7 linked regions of the Homo sapiens genome follow. The protein of the gene in region 4 purifies or fractionates together with the protein of the main gene of each other region. This does not show direct contact. Each region holds a gene or a part of one and is shown on either strand. Other genes may lie near its edges.

Region 1 (3,500 bases), on a different chromosome or scaffold from region 4:
TAATTTTAAGTCAGAATTTCATAGAGTCTCTCTGAGATTTTCCCTCTCAGATAAGCCCAGTTAGACTTCCTTCCTCATCTAGGCAGGAAGCCTACCAGCAAACTATGTCCCGTTCATCCTCTTTCTTATGTCCTAAGCATAGAACTAGTAGCTGTAACCATCATTTAGGTTCAGATATTAGATTTTTTTCTCCCTGATAATTGTACATAATCTTTTTTTATTATACACATTTTGAACTATTCATAAAGGGCTTTGCAGACAGTGTAGTTATTGCCAGCAACCTTTATAAGGCCCACCTTGGCCTCCCGACGTGCTGGGATTACAGGCGTGAGCCACTGCGCCCAGCCTAGGTCAGGGCTTTTATCCATTACCCAAATAATGTACTTTGTACCCATTAAGTACTCTCTCATCATTCACCACCTCCTTCAACTCCCTAGTGCGAATACTTTAAAGTATGTTTTTTGAAGTAGTAATGGATTTGTGCACATCTGTGACTCACAGGCTCACTTTTCCCTTTGACTAGTGGCATAGGGACTAGCTGGCACTCAGTGTTATTTGTAGTCTTGTTACAGAATTATCTTGAAGAGTCATCTGGATTATCTGAGGATCAAACTCATCGGTTCTATGTTGATTTAACCAGATTACAGAAAAAAAGATTTTTCAAGACAAAAAGACAGTTCCAGTAGGTTTAATGACTTACCTCAAAGTTAATTAATGGCAGAGCAAGAAGATGAACTGTGATTTCCTGACTCCCCATTCAGTATTTCTTCTATGCTATGCTGCATGATGGCAGAAGTAGATTCCATCTTAAACTTTTAATCTGCTTATCTAGGGACTGTAATACAGCTGAAGGTCCTTTTTAGGGGCATAAAATTTCTAAAGGTGACATTCTGGTTATATCTCAATTTGGGAAATTCCATTTTGTCTCAGGTTCACCTTTGGGGCTTCTCCTCTTTTTTGATTAGTACACGGTCATAATGCATGGTATTTTCTTTGAGATATTCCAGCAAAACAAGACAAAAAATCTAGAATAATACATGAAACAAGACTGGGAAATGTTGAGAGTTGTTGAAGCTGAGTAATAGGTACATGGTTCATAATAATGTATTCAATCATTTTGCAAATTTTAGAAGTCCCTTTGTTGGACCTGAGAGGTATTTTAACTATGGATGTATTATTCCTTTGTTTATATTTGTGTCTCTGGGTTAAAGAAAAAAGTAAAACCAGCAGGTTAATATTTATGTTATCCTTACCGTCACTCCCACTGAGTCTAGGCTTAAATTCAAAAACAGTTTTCTCTTAGGCCATAGAGGGATCTGCCTTTTAATTCTGACCAAGCTGTTTTCCTTGCAACAGTAGCCAGAAGATTCAACCTTTAGCATAACATTTTCAAGGTGTTTGTTATGAATGTTAGGCTTTTCTAGGCCAAAAAAAGAGGAGTGCTTTTTACTTTATAAGAACAACAAAAGGACTTCAGTATTCTTTTAGACCTAACAATTTTAGCCAAAAATTTTGGAAGATGAGTCAGCATAATGTCTTCAGACAGTTCTTCAATTTGACTTCCTTCACTGCCACCACCTATGACCTTGGACAGATAACTGTATTTCCCTAACCTTCAATTAACTCCCTGTCTTCCTAAACTTCAGTGCCTCCATCCACAACATAGAAATTCTAATACATTGTGAGGTTGCTGTAAGTATTAAATTGGCAGAAAATGTAAGTCACCATTCACAGTGTTAAAATAAATTATAAATAAATAAACATTAGTTCCTTTCCCACCCATAACAGTAGAAGCTCTTAAAGATGGGGTTCTTGTTTCCTTTACTAACCTGTTTCCTTTTTTTTTAATGTACTTTTTTTCCTTACTTGATCTTTCTCCCTATTTCTTTTCACTTAGGGTCTGCATGCTGGGTAACCGCACCCTTTCATCAAGACACATTGACGTTTGCTCTAAGACCAAGGAAATTAACAACATGACAGTCCCATCAAAGTTATGGGGATTCTTCTGTAACTCGAGTCAATTTTTCAATGCCACCTGTGATGAATACTTTGTTCACAATAACGTCACTTCAATCCAGGGCATTCCTGGATTGGCTAGTGGTATAATTACAGGTAAGTTAGGGAGTTATTGGACAAGTTTTTTCCTATTTTCTGGGGAAAATAGGCCTTGTCATCTTAGATTCCTCTACTGTCCATAAAGATTCACTGCCATGGTGCTAATTCCCTTCTTAAGCACACCACACAGCTCTTAATTCACCATATTTCTGCTTTTCCATTAGTAAAGCTGTCCTTATTCAGTACTCCTTTACAGAGTGATGTCTGCTAAAATTCACCTCCATTTCAGAGCAGAGTTGAGCAAATCACTTTCTAACCTTACGGTAAAATATTCCGTGTATTCTTGTAAAATTGCCAATGTTCTTCCTGCACTGACAGAATAGACCTGTTTTAATGTCCACATCCACATGTATCTTCCTAACTTAGCTAAATTCCTGAAACATTCCTTAAGTGTCTTCTATTATAAATGTTTGGTCTATAAATTTCTTTGCACATAAGTAAGTTTACATTAAGGTGTTAGAAACAGCACTGATGACAAATAATAATGGGATTTGTGGGGCATTTAGTTTTAGTCTGTTTAACTTTTACTAATTTGCATTAGTAAAGTTAAACTATATTTGCATGTACCAAATCATTTTGTCAAATTATATTTAAATTAGATAAGAAAGAACATTATGTTTAGCTGGGCGCCGTGGGTTATGCCTGTAATCCTAGCACTTTGGGAGGCCTAGGTGGGAGGATCATGAGGTCAGGAGATCGAGACCATCCTGGCTAACATGGTGAAACCTCGTCTCTACTAAAAATATAAAAAATTAGCTGGGCGTGGTGGCAGGCGCCTGTAGTCCCAGCTACTCAGGATGCTGAGGCAGGAGAATGGCGTGAACCTGGGAGGCAGAGCTTGCAGTGAGCCAAGATTGTGCCACTGCACTCCAGCCTGGTGACAGAGTAAAACTCTGTCTCAAAAAACAAACAAACAAAAAAAAAACTATGTTTTTATTTATGTGTGTTTTATTGTGCAATGTGTGTGTATACATGTGCTCATGTAGAAGCAAACACACCTTTAGAAACTGTATAAATGAGGAGCCTGATTTTGAATGTTTGGGTAGAAAATTAATTATCTTTTTTTTTTCATACTGCTGCTGCTTAAATTCCCATTTTTCCCACTGCAGAGAATCTTTGGAGTAATTACCTACCCAAGGGAGAGATCATCGAAAAGCCTTCAGCCAAATCTTCTGATGTCTTAGGCAGCTTAAACCATGAATATGTTCTTGTTGACATCACCACCTCCTTCACGCTTCTGGTGGGAATCTTCTTTCCCTCTGTTACAGGTAAACACATAGGCTGTTGTATATTTTAGAAGCTGTCAGACCCACGGAGTGATTTTTCTCAGGAGGCAGAATTCTCAGGGTTCCTAGATTTGCTTCTACTCTTTGCTATCAGTATCA
Region 2 (3,500 bases), on a different chromosome or scaffold from region 4:
GTTCTTTGGTATGAATAATATTAGTGTACACCCAAGTTGGTTCATTAAAGGATACATGACAAATTATCAGTGTTATTGCTAAAAGTATATACCCAACTATGGTTGTGATTAGGCCTTCAAAATGAGATGCTTGGACCTGGAAATAAGAAAAAAGTAAATAAAATTTAATTTTACAACATGTTCTACACCCCGGTTTTCCCATATTAAACAATCTAAATGACTAAAAGAGAATTGTTGAGACAATTTATAACCAGGAAACAACTGTAAAATCTGCTTTGGATGACATCTCTGAAAACCAAATTCTCTCACTGACTGTTATATATTACTAAAAAATGAAGAAAAATTAAATAACACTTTACCCAAGGAGACAAAATAACAGTAGAGTGAATTAAATTTTACAAAAACAAGAGCACTGTAATACAACAGCCTGCCCTCTACTCTCACTCTAAAGCAGATTTGCTAAAGGCTAACCACTGAAAGCAGGAACACACTGCCCAAGTCACCCACCAGCTGGGTAATATCCTAGCCACCTCATTTCCTACCACTAGAAGTAACTGTTCAAGTTTCCCTTGCTCTGCAAATCTGTCCCATTCTCAACTTATAGAAAGAATTTTGAAAGTAACAGTGCCTGTCGGTATTTTTTGATTCCTGAGTTTCAGATAGCAAGTGGCAAAAGTTTGGAAAGTCAAAATTTTTCAAAACACTTACCTGAACCTTTCAAGTTCTTGCATTCAACTAGTGAGAATCAGAGGTGTACTAAATATGAGAAGACTTCAGAACGTGATCTCTCAGATCTCAAATATACAAACTGAGCATATGATCCCAGATAGTCAGCTTTTCCATAAAAGACTAAATTGTTCTAGGGCCCCAACAGAGAAGTAATAATCCTTCCAAAATTTATTTACCTCTGGAAAATACTGATAAAATGTCAAAACTAAAGCACTCTAGAAAACACTACAACCCGTCATTCCAAAATATTCTACCCTTTTTAAATTGATTGATATATTGTTACTTTTCTAAATTCAGCAGGGGGCACCTGGGGAAAGGGAAAGAAGAGAACATACAGGTTCTTGAGATGGACAGAAAATCAGCCTGTGGGAAACTTTCCCACGGTATGCCTCAGGCCCACCCAGCTGACTGGATTTCAGAGCACATTTTCATTAGTTGGCAACATGACCACTATCTCTTGAGCCACTGTTATTTTTTTTAAAAAAGAATGAGACGGTATTGCCTAACTATTCCCTTGCATAATGCCAATGAAGAAATGATGTAACTCTTTAGAATACTATTTTATTAATAATCACATTTGGGAGTAATGAATGAAAGTAACTTTGTAAAAGTATTATACTCACGTGTTCTTCAAATCCCAAACCAACAAGGGAGAAATGACCAATATGGTAAGGGCAAAATGCTAAAAAGGGGGAAAAAATTCCATGAAAACTCCGACATCAAAACAATGAACACTCCTACTACAATTCCCCACTAAAAGGAACTAGGGCTTCTTGGAGAAATGAAAGATTCCAGAACTAGGCTAAAAATACACTGCCTAGGACATTCTCTGTAACTAGAGAACAACAAAGCTATTAAGGTCTAATAGGGCCATGCCAAATCAACACAGAAACCATTGTGAAAACAGGCCAAAGAGAGGATAATATGAGCATCAAAAAGAATAATGACCAAAACTGATGGAAAAACACTGAACATACACAAATCCATGAGTTTATGATGCTCAAAAAAGGAAAAGTCCAAAATAATAATCACGAAAAGAGAAAAAGCAACATCAAAGAAAACACTTTGATGTTTTGGAAGCAGTTAGCACACCCATGTGAATAGTTAATACACCAATTCCTTATTCTGAAAACCAAAATTAATGGGAAAAATATGAGCATCTGTCCTACTTGCCCCGGACAGACAGGTTTGGGTTGACTGAATAGTCCCAAATTGATAAGAATTTCTTCTTCTTTCAGAAAAGTCAGCCAATAAATATAAAAAATGACTGTTTAAAATATCACTCCCAACAGATTATTTTATAATGGTAAAGGGAAAAACAAAACCTAAGATTAGAGGCCCAGGTTGATATCAGCTGAATCCAGTGATAAAAGTGGATAATCCAACATCATGTATCTCAGCTCCTCACATATACTATTAATAGGCACAGTGTGACCAGTGATGGATTTGTCCCAGATGTATTCAACCTGAATCTAATAAGGCCCTTAGATCTGACTTCCAGTTTAAGAGAAATATGGGAGACAAAGGATAAAGGCAGAGGACATCCAGGAAGCAGATGGACAGATGTAAAACATGACATGCTGCAAGAACAGTTAACCTAATCCCAGCAACAAATCAATGGCCAAATAGGGTGAGTTGGGGGAAGCAAAGAGAAGAGTACTCTAGATTAAAAGACTAATAACTTATAACTTAACAACTAAAAGTAATATGTGGACCTTATTTGGGTCTTCATTCAAAGAAACCAACTGCAAAATGGTATGTAAGGGACAACCCAGAGAGTTTGAATATGATGGATTATTAGGAAATACCAAATTCTAGTAATTTTGTAAGGTGAGATAATGGCATTATAGCTAAGTATGAAAGTATTTTTAAAACCTTTATAGCAAGAGAATTTTTATAGTCTTCTTTTTCCTCAAGTCTTTCTGGCTAAATTTTACTTCATTCCTAATAATAAAATATAGTTATCTTTTCTTTATGGTAGAAATAAATCGACAGCGCAGTAGATTACCAGGGGAGTGGGAAACTCAATCATGAAGACAGAAGTCAGAGTGAACCTACTAGGGATCTGGCCTCTAACCCTTTCTGACTATTTCATGGGTAAGAATATTTTTGAACATGTATTTCCAATATATTTAAATTTATTTATAAATTATATATACGTATTAGTTTACTAACATATTGTGTGTAATATAAAGCAGAAGAAATTTAATAAGGTAAGGAAAAAAACTGTATGTTGAATTTTGCCTATTTTGCTCTCATATCCCAGTCTGAAGATGACTCAACTAGGCCCCTGGGAGGGGCAAGTTTTAACTCTATTAGCAGATGTATTAAATAATTATTAACCTTAAATACCAGTTGCAACAATCAATTTCCATCCCATTACACACAAACTAATGGAAAGGCATCCTGAAATTAAGGACAATTTCTCAGGATTGTCACCTTCTAGTGGAAGACCACAGCTTTGTCAAATTATATTTCTGCAAAGCATATGACCACAAGAGCCAAAAAACTGCCTGTAGAAAACTTCCAACAGAGCAACCCATGCAAGAAAAAAACAGGAGGGTGTTTAATCCCAATGATTAAAAGAAAAAGTATGTTCCTAATGGAAGAAAACTTGTTTCATTTCAAAAGATTCCAAAAGATTCTAACTATATAATAAAACATAAGTTTACTAAGAAAATTCTTTTCGCAATATAAGCTCAGGAGGTTGGATTAGAAAAAGCTTTACTTAGATTTGATTTCTATAAATCAGAGTTCTTATTTGTATAATT
Region 3 (3,500 bases), on a different chromosome or scaffold from region 4:
CCCATACCAAGCATTGGGGCCAATTGTCTGATTTGTGTTCTATATCAACTTAAAACAATTTCGTATTTGGCTTTTGAGGGTAAAACATACACATAGATGTACCCCACACGTGAAGTTGTTGCATTAAAAGAGGACTTCTGAAGTCAGCAATCTCTAAACAGCGCTTATGTTAGAATTTCAGGCAGGAATGGGTAGGCAGGAAGTCCTTTTGATGAAGTAACAGCATTGTCTAATAACCCTTTCAAATTAAATCCCAGTATGCTAAGTTATCATTGATTCCATTATTTGTACAGGAAGCCCTTTAATATTGTTTAGCCATGACAGCAAATATAAAACTAAATACCCATTACTTATCAGTTATCCATGGCCTTTCTTCTCATGATTCTTCAGACTTTTGAACCAAGGAATAAACTGGTTCTACATTTTATTACATTTTTGTTTGGTTGGTTTCTGTGTGTGTGTGTGTGTGTGTGTGTGTGCGCGTGCGTGTGTGTGTGTGTGTTTGGTTTTTTGTTTCTGTTTTTGAGACAGGGTCTCACTCTGTTGCCAAGGCTAAAGTGCAGTGTTGTGATCTCGGCTCACTGCAACCTCCGCCTCCTGGGTTCAAGCGATTCTCATGCCTCAGCCTCCCAAGTAGCTGGAATTTACAGGTGTGCACCACCAGCCCCACCCAGCTAATTTTTGTATTTTTAGTAGAGACAGGGTTTCACCATGTTGGCCAGGCTGGTCTTGAACTCCTGACTTTGAGTGATCCACCCACCTTGGCCTCCCAAAGTGCTGGGATTACAGGAATGAGCCACCATGCCTGGCTGTTTCTACATTTTAAATGTATAATGTCTCACTATTAGCTATAACTACTGAGGTATAGATTTGTCTTTATTTATGGTAACAGTGTCACCTACTGGATTAGGCACATCGTATGCAACTCCCTTCCCAAACACAGGTGTTGTCAGGCGACTGTAGACATCTTCTGCATTCAGGTCTTCATTTTTACTATTAAAAAGCAGTGCAGCAGCATCACTCCCCAGAAGGTAAGTAAATGTCTTGCCTACCATGGTAAAACTAAATACAGGTCCATACTAAAAAGAGAAAAGTACATATAGTGATGTTACAAAAAATATGCAACACTACGACAGTAACTTTTTAAAATCACAAAATAATGCATTATTAAAAAAATAAAAACATATATAAACCTTAAAGCAATTCTTTTCATCTTGCCATACTCCTCCTTCCTTTGTCCAAATTTATAATTATGTTCATTTAGTTGCAAATGTAGTATAAATATAACTGTTTATTATGCTTTTTTCAGTTTATATTGACAATGTTTTCTATTGTCTATATAAACATCACAATGTTAATTTACTGACTACTCTTTCATTATTGGACATATGGGTGATATGTCAGGGTTTTCTTTAGTTATTACAGCTAATTCTGTGATGAACACCTCTGAAAATATAGACTTCTTCCCCCTTTGGTTAAAAACAAATTTTACAAGACTAGCCAAAGAATTTGACCTTTTCTATAGTACCTGCTATGTGAAGACACTACAAGTTTATTTATCTATTTTAGCACTATCTCACCTACACTAAATGACTTCATTTTTTATTTTATATTAATTTGGTTAGATGTTAAATACTTTCCCTTGCAGTTTTCTGGTTATGATTGAAGACTAGACTCTGGGGGTATAATCATGAAAAAAAATACTGTCCCAACTCACCAAGCTTAGTCTATTGGAAAAAATACAAATTAATCAAATAATCACATTAACAAACATAAAACTGCAAATGTGACAAGTATTACAGAAAGGAAAGCAACTCTGTGATGAGAGAATCTAAAAAAGGGAGACCTAATAGAGGAAAAGACAACTAGGTTGAGACCAGAAGAATGAGGAGCTGGTTTGGTAGCTAAACATACACAAAGGCCCTAAAAGTAAGAGAAAGAGAAAGGAGGAGATGAGAGTTGAGCATTAGGCAGTGCTAGACCATACAGAGCCTCATAAGCCATTTTGAGGAAGTTTTTAAACGGGTGACAAGAATTTTTCAGAGAAAAAGGAAAGATGCCATTGAAAAAGAAGTCAACAATACACTGAGAAAACAAATAAAAGTAAAAAGTTCCTGAGACAAAAGAGGGATGGAGAGTTCAGCCTCCGATAAGAGGCAAAATATAGTTGTAATAAAATCAAAGTGGTAGAACGCAGTGAGCCAGACTGTCCGTGTTCAAATCCCAGCTCCTCCACCTACTTGCTGTATGACTTTGGTCCTATAGTCAGAGAACTTAGTCTCTCTGTGTTTCGTTTCTCTCACCTATAAAATGGTAATAATAATAATAGCAGTTCTTCACAGAGCTGCTGCCAAATTTTATATACAGGGCAGAGAAGAGTACCTTGGCTTACTTAGCATCTTAATGACTTGTTTTCCATTATTGTTATCATTAATAAAAGTATAGGCTCAGAAATCAGACCATGTGTAAATCCTGGCTTGGCCACTGTCTAGCAGTGAGTCCAAGAAGAAATTATATATCCTCTCTGCTTCTCAGTTTTGTCATCTATAAAACAAATATACCTGAAAGGGTTTTTGTGGAGCTTCAGTGAGATGATCTTTGTAAAGCACTAAGTACTGGCATAAAGTAAGTGTTTGATAATTATTACTGTGATAGGAAGAAAGAGAATAGGATTACTATATAAATACAAGTAGGTTTGCATATTTGAAATTGAGAAAATGAGGAAGTTTTCTTTGAATGTTTTAATAATTGTCTCCTAAATCAACGTTTTTAATCATTGTCTCCTAAACAGGAGAAAAAATCATCTGCTTTGATGGAGAGGTAGAAAGATTCAGAAGTTTAGAAAAGTGAAGGTTTGAATTAGTCACTGTAATGAGTGGAAAAGTAGGCCCAATCACAAGAACATAATAGGACTGTGGAGCAGTGTTCAAATATCATTAAGGTAGGCAATCATAAAATCAGGAAGAAACTAATCTGGTGCAGAAGGAGACAATAACTGGCTGCCTCCAAGGGTGACTTCTGCCAGCTGAACACAATGAAAAGATGCGGGGTCGAGGAAATTTAAAGTACAGTATTGCCAAGAGTGTAACAGAAACGACATGCCATGGACCCAAAGCGGAAAGAGGAAAGTGAAGAATGAAGGCTGATGGATCAGGAGAAAGTAAATGGAATGCAAGATCCAATGAGGTCAAAGAATAGTTATAATTTAAGGAGTTGCACAAGCAAACCAGGAGACGGTATGGTCTACGAATAGGATATCTAAATTAATATTGTGGAAGTGAAACAGTTAAGAGTGACAAGTCCAAAGCGAGACTGTGAAGTAAATGGCTTAACTGGCACAGGGAAGCTCATTAGAGAGAAGACGGGCAAATAATTGAGTAGCTATGGTGTCATGTGGGTCATTCAAGTGGACAGTGAAATCACAGAAGATGTATAGAGCAGGTTAGAAAACCCCACAGATGCATGGTAAAGAAAAATGAGGGTTAATTAATATCAATTTT
Region 4 (3,367 bases):
ACTATCTTCACTGTCCTGGAGTTCTTCACAGCGGTCATTGCCATGCACTTCGGGTGCCAAGCCATCCATGCCCAGGCCAGTGCAGTGAGTACCCCCACCCCCACCCCCACGTCCACTAAACCTGAGCTGAGCCTGTGTGGAAGGCAGTTGGCTGGGAGCGCGCTCTGCCTCCAGACCCCTCCCTCTGCACTCTGGGAAGCAATAAGAAGAGACAGCGCTAGGAAGGGTGTCCCATCCATGTCAGGGGGCCCAAAGAAGTCTTTGGGCTGGGCATGGTGACTCACACCCATAACCCCAGCACTTTGAAAAATGAGATGGGAGGATCTCTTGAGCCCTGGAGTTTGAGACAAGCCTGGGCAACATAAAAAGATCCTATCGCTACAAAAAAAAATGTATTTTTAATTAGCCATGTGTGATGGTACGTGCCTGTACTCCTAGCTAGTTGGGAGGCTGAGGCAGGAGGATCGCTTGAGCCCAGGAGGTTGAGGCTGCAGTGAGCTATGATCACACCACTGCCCTTCAGCCTGGGTGACAGAGGAAGGCTGTCTCTAAAACCAAAACAAAACCAAAGACGTCTTCGCAGGTCAGTGAAGACAGGACTGCTCTCCCCGTGGCACTGGGTGCACCAGCACCCACAGGGCCACTGCTCTGTGCAGCCCCACAGGCAGCCTTGCAGAATAGAAGGCCCAGGCTCAGGGCATGGGGGCAGTGCTGCACCCAGAGGAGTGAGACTTTTTGGAGTTCCCAGGCCACATGGGAGACAGGGGCATCAGGGAGGGCAGCATGATAGAGATGGAAATTAAGCTTTGATTTCCAAAAAAAATGGAGGACAGTGATGACAGAAAGGGGCTGGAGGGAGTGTTCAAGGCAGGGGAACCAGTTGGAGCAAAGGCTGCCTCGGGCAGGCAAATGCAGGCCACAGGGTGGGGTGCCCTTGGCAGGTGCACGATGGGATGCATTGAGGGTGAGGGGATTGAAGGTCTGAGCAGGGGAGTGAGCTGGTTGAGGGAAATCAGTCAAGAGGATTTGTCCAGTGCCGGAAGGTGGAGAGGGTGGACAAGCGGGGCTCGAGGCCAGGAAGCTGCAAGGAGGCTGGTGCCACGGTGCAGGCAAGAGAGAGCGAAGTCCTGAACCAGGCCAGGGCAGTCGGGAGAGAAAGAACAGCAGAGCCGGACGTGGTGGCTCATGCCTGTAACCCCGGCACTTTGGGAGGCCGAGGCGGGCAGATCATCTGAGGTCAGGAGTTCAAGACCAGCCTGGCCAACATGATGAAACCCCGTCTCTACTAAAAATACAAAAAATTACCTGGGCATGGTGGCAGGCGCCTATAATCCCAGCTACTCGGGAGGCTGAGGCAGGAGAATAGCTTGAACCCAAGAGGCGGAGGTTGCAGTGAGCCGAGATCACGCCATTGCACTCCAGCCTGGGCAACAAGAGCAAAACTCTGTCTCAAAAAAAAAAAGAAAAGAAAAAAAAGAACAGCAGAACGTTAGCGCCTGGAGAAATGGGACTTTTGTCTGTTTTGTTCACTGCTGTACTCCCAATGCCTGGATCATAGCTGGCCCCAGTAAATGTTGTTTGAAATATTGGTTGCACGGAGAGCCCTGAGCATGCGATTCAGACTTGCGGAATTCAGTACCAGGGCGCTGTTCTCAGATTACCCACAAGGGGGCACTATTGAACCACTACCCTGAAGCTCCAGCGTCCTCCAGGACGCTCAGTGCTGTTTTCTTTGCAGCCTGTGATCTTCCTGCCAAACGCCTTCAGCGCAGACTTCAACATCCCCAGCCCGGCAGCCTCTGCGCCCCCTGCCTATGACAATGTGGCATATGCCCAAGGAGTCGTCTGAGTAGCAGATGTGGCACCTGCGGGTGGAGTCCAGCCTTTTCCCTCTGGGCCCAGCCTCTCCCCACCCCCACCTTGTTCATCAGGGGCCAGCCCCATCCCAGCTGCCCTCCCTCACCACATCTACACATACTCCGGCATCTGAGTGAAGTGTCCCCAGGGACATCTCTCCCACACTTTCCCCAGTGCTTTCTTTCTAAAAGACACCGGGCTGACGTCAGGGGTGTGTGTCCTTCAGCTCCCTGAGCCCTGTCACCCTTCCAGGACACCCACCTTGTGCATCTAAGCATTTCTCTGCTCATTGGGGAAATCCTGGCCTCATTGGAGACTCAGGTTCGAGGCCTGCCCTGACCCTCGGGCCTCGGGAAGGTCAGAGAGCCCGGAATCCTCCAGAATGGAAGAGTCTGACTCTGGCATTCCACAGAGGTGCCGATACCAGGCCAAGGCCTCACAGCAGGGTAGTGGCCTGGCCGCAGGTCTCCTGGCCCCAAGATCAGCTCTGTCCTTTGTCATCTGTTGCCACATCCATGGAACTCAGGTTTCCTATTTGGAAACTAGAGTGTTGAACCAGATAAGGTTCATCAGGCCCTTCCAGCTCCCCAGGCTCCCTGAAGTCCTGGGTCTAGGCCAGGCATTGTCCCCCTGCTTCCTGGAAACCCTCATTTTCCTTGTCTGTAATATGAAGTCAGCATTGGCCCCGCCCCCCACCCCCTACCATCTCCCAATGGAGGGGAGGTTGCAGGGGAGAGCTGCCGCCAGCCCACTCCTGAGGCACCACCACAGTCAGCATCGACAGGGGCACAGCAGTGGCAGTTTGGGACCTCCCTGTGCCTCTCAGCACTCCCTTCCCCACCCCCATAGCCCAAGGACAAGGCTACCACAGAAGGTTACCACAGGACCTGGGCTTCGTCTCCAGGGGACAAGGAGACACTGTCAGCCTGGTGTTCACCAGGCCTGGTAGATGAGATGGCTTGTCTCATCCACACCACAGAAGGAAATAAACCATGTGGCTTAAATTTTGAGCTGGTCTTGTTGCAATGACTTTTTCTTTTTAACCTCAGGGGCTTCCAAGGGTCATCCCATGTTTATCAGAGGACCTGGGTAACTATCCCACTGTCACAAAAGGGCACCTCTGGGTGCCTCGCTCTGTGTGGTGTAATCCTTACACTTACTCTGTCCCCATCTCGGTTCAAACAAACATGCCTTCATATCCCCACTCCACAACTAAGGACACTGAAGCTTAAAGGTGTTAAATTATATGCCCAAGGCCACCGAGCTAGTTAGGAGCAAAACTGGGATCCAAACCTAGTTCCATGTGACGTCAGAGTCCGTGTTCTCACCACTTGGTCTCCCCTTAGTACAAACCTAAGTGCTTCCCACCAACCCCTTTTCCTCCTTCCTTCTGTTTCTTCATCCCCAAAACTAAGGCAGGGCTGCATTCCTCAACACACTCACTTCTTCTTCACCCAACAAACTCCCCCTCCTCCTTTAAGGCCCTATTTAAACGTTGCCCCTTCTGTGA
Region 5 (3,500 bases), on a different chromosome or scaffold from region 4:
CTCAGCTTCCGGAGTAGCTGGGACTACAGACATGCACCAGCATGCCCAGCTAAATTTTGGTGGTGGGGGGTATCTTTTGTAGAGACGGGGTTTTGCTATGTTGCCCAAGCTGGTCTCGAACTCCTGGGCTGACGTGATTCTCCCACCACAGCCTCCCAAAGTGCTGGGATTACAGGTGTGAGCCACCATGCCTGGCTTTTTTTTTTTTTTCCCCTCGAGACAAGGTTTTGCTCTCTTGCCCAGGCTGGAGTGCAGTGGCATGATCATGGCTGACTGCAGCCTCCAACTCCTAGGCTCAAGGTATCTTCCCCACTTGGCCTTCAAAAGTGCTGAGATTACAGGGGTGAGCCACCCCACCCTGCCTACTACTACTTTTTTTTTTGAGATGGAGTCTCACTCTGTCGCCCAGGCTGGAGTGCAGTGGCATGATCTAAGGTCACTGCAACCTCTGCCTCCTGGGTTCAAGTGATTCTCCTGCCTCAGCCTCCCGAGTAGCTGGGACTACAGACGCATGCCACCACACCCAGCTAATTTTTGTATTTTTTTAGTAGAGACGGGGTTTCACTGTGTTGGCCAGGCTGGTCTCGAACTCCTGACCCTGTGATCTGCCCAGCTCGGCCTCCCAAAATGCTGGGATTACAGGTGTGAGCCACCGTGCCTGGCACCTACTACTACTTTTATGCTCACTTGTGGATATATTCTTGCCTTTCTCTCTGAAGTGGGTAGGGGTAGAGTAAGGATATTTGTATCTCTTTGTTACAGATTGGAAGACTGAGACTCAGGTTTCGTAGTAACAGAGCTCGCTTCCATCTTCCCCTCCTCCCCTCAGACCACATGGCCTTGCTTTGATCCAAAGCCCTAACTTAAATCTTGCCCAGTAACTCCACTGAAAAAGCTTATATCACTCCTGTAATCCCAGCACTTTGGGAGGCCGAGGTGGGCAGATCATGAGGTCAAGAGATCGAGACCATCCTGGCCAACATGGTGAAACCCTGTCTCTACTGAAAATACAAAAATTAGCTGGGCGTGGTGGCATGTGTCTGTAGTCCCAGCTACTCAGGAGGCTGAGGCAGGAGAATCCCTTGAACCCAGGAGGCAGAGGTTGCAGTGAGCCAAGATCGCGCCACTGCACTCCACTCTGGTGACAGAGCGAGACTCCGTCTCAAAAAAATACACAACAACCCCCCCAAAAAAAAGCTTATAAGTTATAGCTCTCCAACCCCCACCATGCACACACTCCTTAATGGTAAAATTAAAAAGTTAGCTAGAAGTAAAATGCTCCATCACTCTCTGGACACACCTCAACCAAAACCTCAATATCAGACTAGAGAAACTGGGATATAGCTGGTGCAGGCACCTCGTGGAGTGGAAGAACTGCCACCTCCCATCCCCAAGGTATTCTGCCTCAATGTCTTCCCTCTTCTCAGTTGCTCAGCCCAGTGCTGGCTTTGAGAGCAGCTGCCCTTGATGAAACTCAACCCAGCAACCCCACCCCCACAATTAAAAGCTTGGAGCAGCCCTGTCAACTGGCAGAGCTGCCAGCCCAGGCTCCACCCCTTACCTGTCCTGTCACTGTGCAAGTTGCTTCCCCTACTGGGTTCCTGCTTCCTCCCTGTAAAATGGGGATAGTGATCTGAGTGTGCCCTGCCTTCCTCCCATGCAGGTGGGAAGATTAATGCTGTTGTGGAGGGGAGAGTACTTTGTGACCCCAAGGAGGCGGACAGCAGAGGAGCATGGTGATTTCAGTTACTAACCATCTAGCTAGATCCTGTCCACCCTGCTGGGGCCACTTCATGTAGAAGCTTCCAAAATGCTCTACCTTTCTTTGGTGTGGAGAAGACAGGAGTTGATAGGAATGGTACTCTGGGGCTTGTTCTCATTTCATTCTGATCTGATGGAGCCTTGGAATTCAGAGAGAGAAACAGGCAAGGGGTGGGAATAGAGTGTTGAGATTGCTGGAGTACATTGGAGTTGAGAATTGAGAAAGGGGGACTAGTTAGAGTCCCCCCAACCCAAGATACCTATACCTACCTTTAACCTCCCATAGTGCCCCAGGGTTCTGTGCATCTTATGTTTACATACCCGGGCTCCCAGACACACCCATGTTCACACCCCCACTTCGAAGCCAACAACTCCCTTCATTTCCGTGGACTGCCATGCAGTCACCTAGCTCCTCCTGGACACAGGTCCACACATCAACACACATTTACATACCTGGACACACACATTTCCACAGCACCCACAGGTTCTCTGGCCTGAGAACATTTAATGAGCATTTATAAAGCTTCCATGGTCTGCCGAGTCCTGTTCTAGGAACATCAGAAAAGCACCGTGGTGCCCTGAAAATCATTCTAGCTTTAGAAAGAAGGTGAGCTAGGTTTGAGTCCTAGGTCCCTCATTTTATTAGCAGTGTGACCTTGGGAAAGTTACTTAACCTCTGAGGCCCTGTGCCCCCACCCTAAAATGTCAGTGACACTCAATTCAGGATCGTCGAGGATTAAATGAAATCATGTAATATATTATTCTTGAAACTGAGGGCACTGGACAAATGGTACCCAATACAATTACTAAATTAGTGTGTTTTTAAAGGCAGCTTGGACTGGAAAAGGAAGAGGCATAACACACCAGCACACACTCCTTTAGTCTTCCTAATCCAGGCTTTGCAGAGACTCCCTGGGACCAAGTGAAACACATAAACAACTCCATCCTCCCCTCCATCTGAGGGCTTCTGCCTCTTGCCCTGTGGTTGAAGTGTTAGGAAGAGGCAGGAGAAACCCTCTGAGTCCCCCTGGGGGCTAAGGGATGCTGCTCCCGAAGTTGCAGTCACTGTTTCTAGTTTTGTTGTTCTCTTTGGTTTTCCTTTTTCTTCCCTGAGGACCTCCTCCCCTGCTCCACAGCCCGCCCCCGAGGCAGAGCTTCAGTGTTGTCAGCAGAAGGGTCCCCCAGGGACCCCCCAGTAAAATGGGTGGGGCAGTGCTGCATCTGTTGAGGCCACACTTCTCCGCTATCCTGGGATCCTCCCCAGGGCCCCACTCTGCTCTGTCCCCAAGCACTTTGAGAACCCAGGCACTCAGGCTGGCTGTCCCTTTTCTCCTCCTGCCCACCCCATCCACTCTGAGCATCAATGCAGCCGGCCAGTTGCAGGCAACCAGGCAGCACCCTGGCTGCCCAGGCAGGCTAAGAGGCCCCCACCCACTCCCCCCTCCTTTGCCAGTGGAAAAGCTTGCCGTAGGGCATAGCTTTCCCAGCCTTCCCTGCTTCAGAGGCAGGAGCATGGCACTCTGGGAGTTGTAGTGCTCATAACACTCAGGCGATCCCTGTGCAAATAACTGGAGAGAGGACTATGGTATGGGGAAGAGAAATGAGAATAAGCAGGAGTGGCTGGGGCCAGGCAGGTAACTCAAACCCAGAAGTCCTACTATTTACTTGACTTCCTACTCTGACCCATCGTCGAACCTAAGCCAGTTATATTGAGTTCAAAACTCTAACCAAATGAAATC
Region 6 (3,500 bases), on a different chromosome or scaffold from region 4:
GTGCTGCATGCCTGTAATCCCAGCTACTCGGGAGGCTGAGGCAGGAGAATTGCTTGAACCCAGGAGGCCCAGGTTTCAGTGAGCCAAGATTGGGCCATTGCACTCCAGCCTGGGTGACAAAAGCAAAATTCCATCTCAAAAAAAAAAGCAGGTATGACCAGTAGAGGGTATACAATTCAGATAATTCTTTATAAATCTTCTTTTCTCCCCCCTTTCACAAAAAGAAAACACAGGACAATGGGTCAGAGAATGAGATAGAAGTTTAAAAATTTTGTTTTTTTTTTTTAAAAAACAAAGAGAAGGGAAAGATAAGAAAGTGGAAGAATTGTGGAATCAGACATAAAGAATATACCAATGTGCCCCTATTAAGGTAAAATATTGAACGAAGGTTTTTTTTTTTCTAAAGATGGAAAAAGTGTAGGTAAGGAAATATGACATAGAGCAAAGGGACATAACCAAGAGAAAACACTTGCTTTACCATTTTATTTAAAATTGCCTTCTTGCTTTCTTCATAGCTGTGCCACTGCATATGTTCTACTGGCTGAGGAAGAAGCAACAACTATTGTAGATGCTGAAAGGTTATTTAAACAGGCACTCAAGGCAGGAGAAACAATTTATAGGCAGTCACAGCAGTGCCAGCACCAAAGTCCTCAGCATGAAGCTCAACTGAGTAAGCAAGTTTGAACTGGTTATTACTGTCTTTTAGCATCTGTAATTTGCTTGTGTCTTAACACAAACAACAATAATAAAAAACTTAATACTTACAGGTTAGTTAATTTTCACTGGAAATAACTAATCTATTCACAATACCTACAAGCCAGCAAGACAGAAATGTGTATTAGCCAGAGAATGCTTGTGGAAGGGAATAGATCTGCTCAGGTTATTGAGAGAAGATGTGCTGCTCTGAGACTTAACAGTAATTTATTTCATGTGAGAATTGGGCTGGTCATTGTAAAAACATAACTCAAAAACTTTCAGCATTCAGGAGAGCCTTCTAGTGATGATAAGCAGCTGTTATCTTTATCCTCACCCTTACTCTAAGCAACAGTAGAGGTACATTATTTGGTTGGTTCTTCAGACTGTGTATCTGCATATAGTGCTAGGGAGTGGCCCCTTTCACACCATCTGATTCTTAGCCCAAAATCCAACCTCATACTTGGCATTGATTCTTTCTTTGGTTGATTTTTCTCCATGATGTGCTTGAGATCAGATGAGCCATAGCAACAGAAGTCCTTTCTGTTCTTAGATATGCTCTACCAGTTATGATTGAGATTTTTTTTTACCAAAGATGTTAGAATCAGCAATGATGCTGCTTCCTGCTATTTTTATGGCCAGAGGGTTTTAGTTTCATGATTTTGGCAAATAGTGGGTAATAAATTGAAATATGTTTATATAATGCATTATCTACTGGCAGCTAAGTTCTAAATCTTTTTTTATGTGTAAATTAAAATTTGGATAATGTTTTTCTCCCTAAGCTAAATACAGATATATATGGTATGTTTCATTAATGCACAGTTTTTATAACACAAATCTGTGGGAATATATAATTTTGTAGCCTGGAACTAATGAAACTACATCTTTAAAAATGTCATGCCATTTGTCTTTGAATAATCTCAAATACGGTTATGAGCTAGTTACAGAAATATTTGTTAGCTCTTTCTAGAAGTAGTTTTATAGTTTGTCAACTACTCACTGTTAAGAAAAGTTTACATTAGCCATGGAAATTTTGTTTTGGACATTTTTTGTTTTTCATTTAAAACAATAGAGAGTATCAGAATAGTAGATCATTTATGCACAAACTTAAATACTAGGTTAATGTTATATCTTACTATAATGTATGTATTTCTTTTTTGCTAATGGTAAAATAAACTTGTCAATCATACACGAATTATATATACTGTACTTAAGTTACTATTAGAGGCAAAAATAATTAAATGTGTATTTTAAGTTTTAATACAGAAAACTTGAAACATGCGCAAAAATAGAGAACACTCCTGTTCAATATTTATCATCCAAATGTAGACATCATTAATATTCTTCCATTCTGACACAATTTAATTTTAATTGACTCTTCCAAGGGAAGCAAATAAAATTAATGGATATGTTAATGAAATAGCAGCCCACAATACAAAAGTGATAGTTGTATCATTTTTTTGTTTTTCTAAATAGGGAGAGATACCAATGTACTGGTATATATTAAAAGAAGATTGGCAATGTGTGCAAGAAAATTAGGAAGAATAAGAGAAGCAGTAAAAATAATGAGAGATGTAAGTAAATTGATGATGGGACTATTACATTTATTCCTCCAGAAACTAAAAATTTAGTTAAGTTGCCAGTTATTTTAATGCAGAATCATTGTATTTTAATTGGTAGTTTTTAGAACAAGGTATTTATTTAATATACGTACCTTTCTTAAGGGTTAGGTCTTCTTCACAGCTATGGTAAGAAACAAGAATTTCTACTTAATGAATCTGGCTCAGCTCTATTGAGTTCCTTTGTTATGATTTTAATCTTTCTTTTCCTTTTAATATACAGTTGATGAAAGAATTTCCTCCTCTTACCATGTTGAACATCCATGAAAATCTCTTAGAATCACTTTTAGAATTACAGGCCTATCCAGATGTTCAGGCAGTCCTAGCAAAATATGATGGTGAGTCATATTCCCTTAGTTGATAGCATGGTTATTCTTTTCCAATTATGTAATTATAAATGTGGTTATATTCTAGTATTTAATTTTCTCTTTCTGTTCTTACCAGTCAGTATTTAGCACTCAGAGGTTGCTATTTAGTATCTTCTTTATCAGGACTTTCATTAGCAAAAGTCTGCAAGGAAGAACTTTTCTTCTGTCAAGATTTACTTGTTTGTTTATTGAGTGCTTGTTTCTAATATGAGTGAGTCATTCAGAATATGACAGTGAACAAGACAACATGGGAGGCTGGGCATGGTGGCTCACACCTGTAATCCCAGCATTTTGTTTTGGAGACTGAGGTGGGAGGATCACTTGAGCCCAGGAGTTGGAGACCAGCATGGGCAACATGGCAAGACCCTGTCTCTACAAAAAAATTTTTTAAAAAAATTAGCTGGGTTTGGTGGTGTGTACCTGTAGTCCCAGCTACTTGGGAGGCTAAGGTGGGAGGATCACTTGAACCTGGGAGGTTCAGGCTGTAGTGAGCTGTGACTGCACCACTGTAGTCCAGCCTAGGCGACAGAGGGAGACCCTGTCTCAAAAAAAAAAAAAAAAAAGACGGGGAGCCCTCATAGGATTTACAGTTTATTTACAGTTTAGTGGAGCATACAGACAAATGAGCAGCAGTTACATTGAAGACAGCATGTTTGGGAGATAATTGGAGAAGTATGGGTGCTGTGCACATAGTAGGGGTACCTTATTTGTTTTGGAGTGTCAAGCAAGCCTAACAGAGAAGTTGCTTAGCAGTATATACTATAAGAGCAATTCAGAATAACATTTTTACAATGCTTTTTAGTTACAAAGTTCAATGATA
Region 7 (3,500 bases), on a different chromosome or scaffold from region 4:
CGGCTCCCTTTGAGTATCTGCACCACCAATTCCTGCAGATGGAGGCTGGAGGAAAGTCTTTCCTGTGAGGAGATTACGTGTGCAGCCAGGGATGCGGGGAAAGGCCCAGAGCATCAGGAAAGGTGGCGGTGGGGTGCAGGGGGGCAGGGCAAGCAGTCCGGGAAGGCTCCCAGGACCCCATGCTGGAGGACCTGAAGGCTGGGCTGAGGAGCTGACATTTTATTCTTTCTTCATTCCTTTTTTTGTAATCTTATTTTTTTAGAGACAGGGTCTTGCTCTGTTGCCCAGGCTAGAGTTCAGTAGTGCAATAATAGCTTACTGCGGCCTCAACTCCTGGACTTAAGGCATCTTCCTGCCTCAGCCTCCCAAGTAGCTGGGACTGCAGACACATGGCACCACACCCAGCTAATTTTTAAATTTTTTATGGAGATAGAGTCTTGCTATGTTGCCCAGGCTGGTCTCGAATTGCTGGGCTCAAGTGATCCTCCTGCCTTGCCCTCCCAAAGTGCTGGGATTACAGGCGTGAGCCACCATGCCCGGCCTCTCTTCATTCCTTATCAATACAGCAGCCACTAATTTGTTGCATGGACTAGGAGTTGGCTGCACTTTAACTTTGCACTATTTGTGAAGAAAGCACTTGCTAAGCAAATTGCTAGACAGGATCGTAAACTGAATGTTTAAAATTTGAAAAACTTCTTCAGAAACTCTAAGTATTTTAGAAATATTTACTAATATGTAAATACTCAATACCAGAATCATTTTTCTGTATTTCCTTGAAGCAACTCCTCAAAGTTGCCTGCTAGGCAACACCTGGAAACAGTAATTCCACTTAATGTATAACTTTAAAGAGAAAAAAAAAGTCTCCTCATTCTCATACAAACATTGCATGACTCATGCTTTCCCCTATTTTAAGAGGCCTTTTTAGTGAATGCTGTTGCAGTCCGTGGGGATTGATGTATGAATTTGCCTTTCAAGCAGGGATGCTTAAATTGCAGTTTTCTTCCTCACAGCTCTTATTGAGACCAGAAATTGTCCTACTGTTTAATTTCATGATTGATATACCTATGGGCTGTCTCTCTCACTAAAATGTAAGCACATCCAGGCCCTGTTACCAGCACCTAGAACAGTGCCTGGCAGGTGGTAGGTGGGGATTTACATGGTTCTGGAATCCCCTGGAATTGTATGTATAATTTTGCGTGTATGGTGAGGGGGTATTGCATGGTGGCCATGAGCATTGACCTTGGAGCCAGGTTGCCTGTATTCACCTCCTGGCTCAGACACTCACTAGCTGTGTGATCTTGGGCACAAGCCACTTACCTCTGTCGGCCTCAGTTTACTCATCTGTAAAATGGGGACAAAACCTCACAGGTTATGATGAGGATTAAATAAATAAATATATGTAACAATACCTGGTCAATAGTGAGTATGTATTTTGCTGGGTTTTTTTTTTTTTTTTTTTTTTTTTTGAGACGGAGTCTCACTCTGTTGCCCAGGCTGGAGTGCAGTGGGGCAATCTTGCTCACTGCAACCTCTGCCTCCCAGGTTCAAGTGATTCTCGTGCCCCAGCCTCCCAAGTAGCTGGATTACAGGTGTGTGCCACCACACCTGGCTAATTTTTGTATTTTTAGTAGAGACAGCGTTTCACCACATTGGCCAGGCTGGTCGCAAACTCCTGACCTCAAGTGATCCACCCGGCTCAGCCTCCCGAAGTGCTGGGATTACAGGCATGAGCCACCGCACCTGGCCTTGCTGGTTGTTAATATGTGTGTAGATATTTTCTGGTCTGAGGGTCCTTTGCTTTCATTAGACCCTCTGAAAGGTCTGTGACCTTAAAAAAGGCTACCTGAATAGGATTTCAGTGATGGCTCAAGGTAGATACTGACCTAGCACAAACAATAAATCTGTTCCTTTGGGTCTTTAGAGGGGATAGTGATGTGTTCATTTTTCCCCAGGAGAAGTGCCAGCTGATTCCAAGCCAAGTGGGTATAAACTTGTCAGTTCCAGGCAGTTAGCTTCATACTACTAAAAAAGGCTAGCGGGGTGCAGTGACTCACGCCTACAATCCCAGCACTTTGGGAGGGTGAGACAGGAGGAGTGCTTGAGGCCAGAAGTTCGAAATCAGCCTGGGCAACATAGCGAGACCCCGTCTCTACAAAAAATAAAAATCAGCCTGGTGGCATGTGCCTGTAGCCCCAGCTACTCAGGAGGCTGAGGTGGGAGGATTGATTGAGCCCAGAAGGTTGAGGCTACAGTGAGCCATGATTGTGCCACTGTACAGCAGCCTGGGTGACAGAGTGAGACCCTGTCTCTAAACAAAACAAAACAAAACAAAAGCCCTCTTTGTATTAAATTTCAAAATTTCCCCCTTTTGGAGGATAAAAGACAAAGAGAAGAGAGGTCTCCGCTGGCACAGAAACCAGCAGCGAGATCACTCTGCCATCCTTTCCCTTGGATCCGTGGGCACGTCTCCTGCTTGGGGTGTTTTCTTTTCCAACGGTGTCTTTTGCCTCCTTCTCTCCCTGGCCACAGGGACGCGTATCCCACGTGTGAGGTGGTTGATGTGCAGCTGTGCTACAACGTGGCCAAACTGATCTACCTGTGCAAGGAGAAGTGAGTGGTGGGCGGGCCTTGCAAGATGCCCCCTCCTTCCTTGCTGGCCTCGCATCTCCCAGCTAGGAAGGGAGGCGGGAGGCCCTGGACCCCTCCTTCTCCCCTGGCGTTCGATGGTTGAACTGTGGGTATGGGGGTCCCTGCCACAGGATTCTAAATCTGAGGTTTGTGCCCCCGCTCCCACCCCTACAGAAAGAAGACTGAGAAGAGCCTGACCTATTACACAAACCTGCAGGTGAAGACAGGCCAGCGGACCCTCATCAACCCCAAGCCCTGTGGCCAGTTTTGCTGCTGTGAAGTGCTGGGCTGTGAGTGGGTAAGGGTCCCACCCCCCGGCTGGGAGCAGAGGCATTGGCATCGGGGTGCCCCAGATACCAGCATGGGGCCACGTCATCCCAATGGGATGTGTCTTGTGGCAGGAAGACGCCATCTCTTACTACACACGGATGAAGGACAGGCTGCTGGAGAGGATCACAGAGGAAGAACGCCACGTCCAGGACCAGCCCCTGGGAATGGCCTTCGTCACCTTCCAGGAGAAGTCCATGGCCACCTAGTGAGTGTAGGCACATCCAGACCCCTTCTTGGCTGACTCCCTGTTCCCCTCCAGATAACTCACTGTCCCTCTCGAGTGGAGATGGTACTGCTGACCCACCATCCCTGGGATTTATCTGTGGTGTTTCCTTCTCCTCCCTCAGCTACCCACACTCACTTTCAGCCAGCCCAGCCCATGTTTGTGTAACAGGCGGTGGGGGTGTGGGCAGCAGCCACGGAGTGGGTGATTCTGGCTGACCCCCTCGAGCTGATGTGGCCTGGCCCCACTGCTGGGCTCTTCCCTGCTGCCCTGGACCCATCCTGTTGGCTTCATGTGCCAGCCTTGCCCCAGGGGAGAT

Evidence for each region.
Region 1: the proteins of MS4A15 (region 4) and SLC12A6 purify together in Homo sapiens (affinity purification with mass spectrometry; one large-scale study listed by BioGRID and IntAct). This does not show direct contact.
Region 2: the proteins of MS4A15 (region 4) and MARCHF6 purify together in Homo sapiens (affinity purification with mass spectrometry; one large-scale study listed by BioGRID and IntAct). This does not show direct contact.
Region 3: the proteins of MS4A15 (region 4) and CYP51A1 purify together in Homo sapiens (affinity purification with mass spectrometry; one large-scale study listed by BioGRID and IntAct). This does not show direct contact.
Region 5: the proteins of MS4A15 (region 4) and TMEM63B purify together in Homo sapiens (affinity purification with mass spectrometry; one large-scale study listed by BioGRID and IntAct). This does not show direct contact.
Region 6: the proteins of MS4A15 (region 4) and ST7L purify together in Homo sapiens (affinity purification with mass spectrometry; one large-scale study listed by BioGRID and IntAct). This does not show direct contact.
Region 7: the proteins of MS4A15 (region 4) and TMEM63A purify together in Homo sapiens (affinity purification with mass spectrometry; one large-scale study listed by BioGRID and IntAct). This does not show direct contact.

Annotation. Positions count from the first base shown.
Region 1 is NC_000015.10:34,250,782-34,254,281, reverse strand, and holds part of SLC12A6 (solute carrier family 12 member 6), read left to right. Parts: intron 1-1,897; coding exon 1,898-2,112; intron 2,113-3,224; coding exon 3,225-3,383; intron 3,384-3,500.
Region 2 is NC_000005.10:10,398,695-10,402,194, reverse strand, and holds part of MARCHF6 (E3 ubiquitin-protein ligase MARCHF6), read right to left. Parts: intron 1,412-3,500; coding exon 1,353-1,411; intron 1,283-1,352; exon of another isoform or gene 709-1,282; intron 137-708; coding exon 56-136; intron 1-55. UniProt on the Homo sapiens protein: Endoplasmic reticulum membrane-associated E3 ubiquitin ligase that plays a critical role in mitigating endoplasmic reticulum stress, the regulation of cholesterol and lipid homeostasis, and ferroptosis.
Region 3 is NC_000007.14:92,127,978-92,131,477, forward strand, and holds part of CYP51A1 (lanosterol 14-alpha demethylase), read right to left. Parts: intron 1,080-3,500; coding exon 903-1,079; intron 1-902. UniProt on the Homo sapiens protein: Sterol 14alpha-demethylase that plays a critical role in the cholesterol biosynthesis pathway, being cholesterol the major sterol component in mammalian membranes as well as a precursor for bile acid and steroid hormone synthesis.
Region 4 is NC_000011.10:60,773,867-60,777,233, forward strand, and holds the end of MS4A15 (membrane-spanning 4-domains subfamily A member 15), read left to right. Parts: coding exon 1-84; intron 85-1,738; coding exon 1,739-1,849; 3' UTR 1,850-2,867; downstream 2,868-3,367. UniProt on the Homo sapiens protein: May be involved in signal transduction as a component of a multimeric receptor complex.
Region 5 is NC_000006.12:44,130,554-44,134,053, forward strand, and holds part of TMEM63B (mechanosensitive cation channel TMEM63B), read left to right. Parts: intron 1-1,663; exon of another isoform or gene 1,664-1,733; coding exon of another isoform or gene 1,734-1,736; intron 1,737-3,500. UniProt on the Homo sapiens protein: Mechanosensitive cation channel with low conductance and high activation threshold. Osmosensitive cation channel preferentially activated by hypotonic stress.
Region 6 is NC_000001.11:112,581,142-112,584,641, reverse strand, and holds part of ST7L (suppressor of tumorigenicity 7 protein-like), read left to right. Parts: intron 1-515; coding exon 516-670; intron 671-2,169; coding exon 2,170-2,267; intron 2,268-2,535; coding exon 2,536-2,650; intron 2,651-3,500.
Region 7 is NC_000001.11:225,861,881-225,865,380, reverse strand, and holds part of TMEM63A (mechanosensitive cation channel TMEM63A), read left to right. Parts: intron 1-2,529; coding exon 2,530-2,610; intron 2,611-2,802; coding exon 2,803-2,926; intron 2,927-3,029; coding exon 3,030-3,163; intron 3,164-3,500. UniProt on the Homo sapiens protein: Mechanosensitive cation channel with low conductance and high activation threshold. In contrast to TMEM63B, does not show phospholipid scramblase activity. Acts as a regulator of lysosomal morphology by mediating lysosomal mechanosensitivity.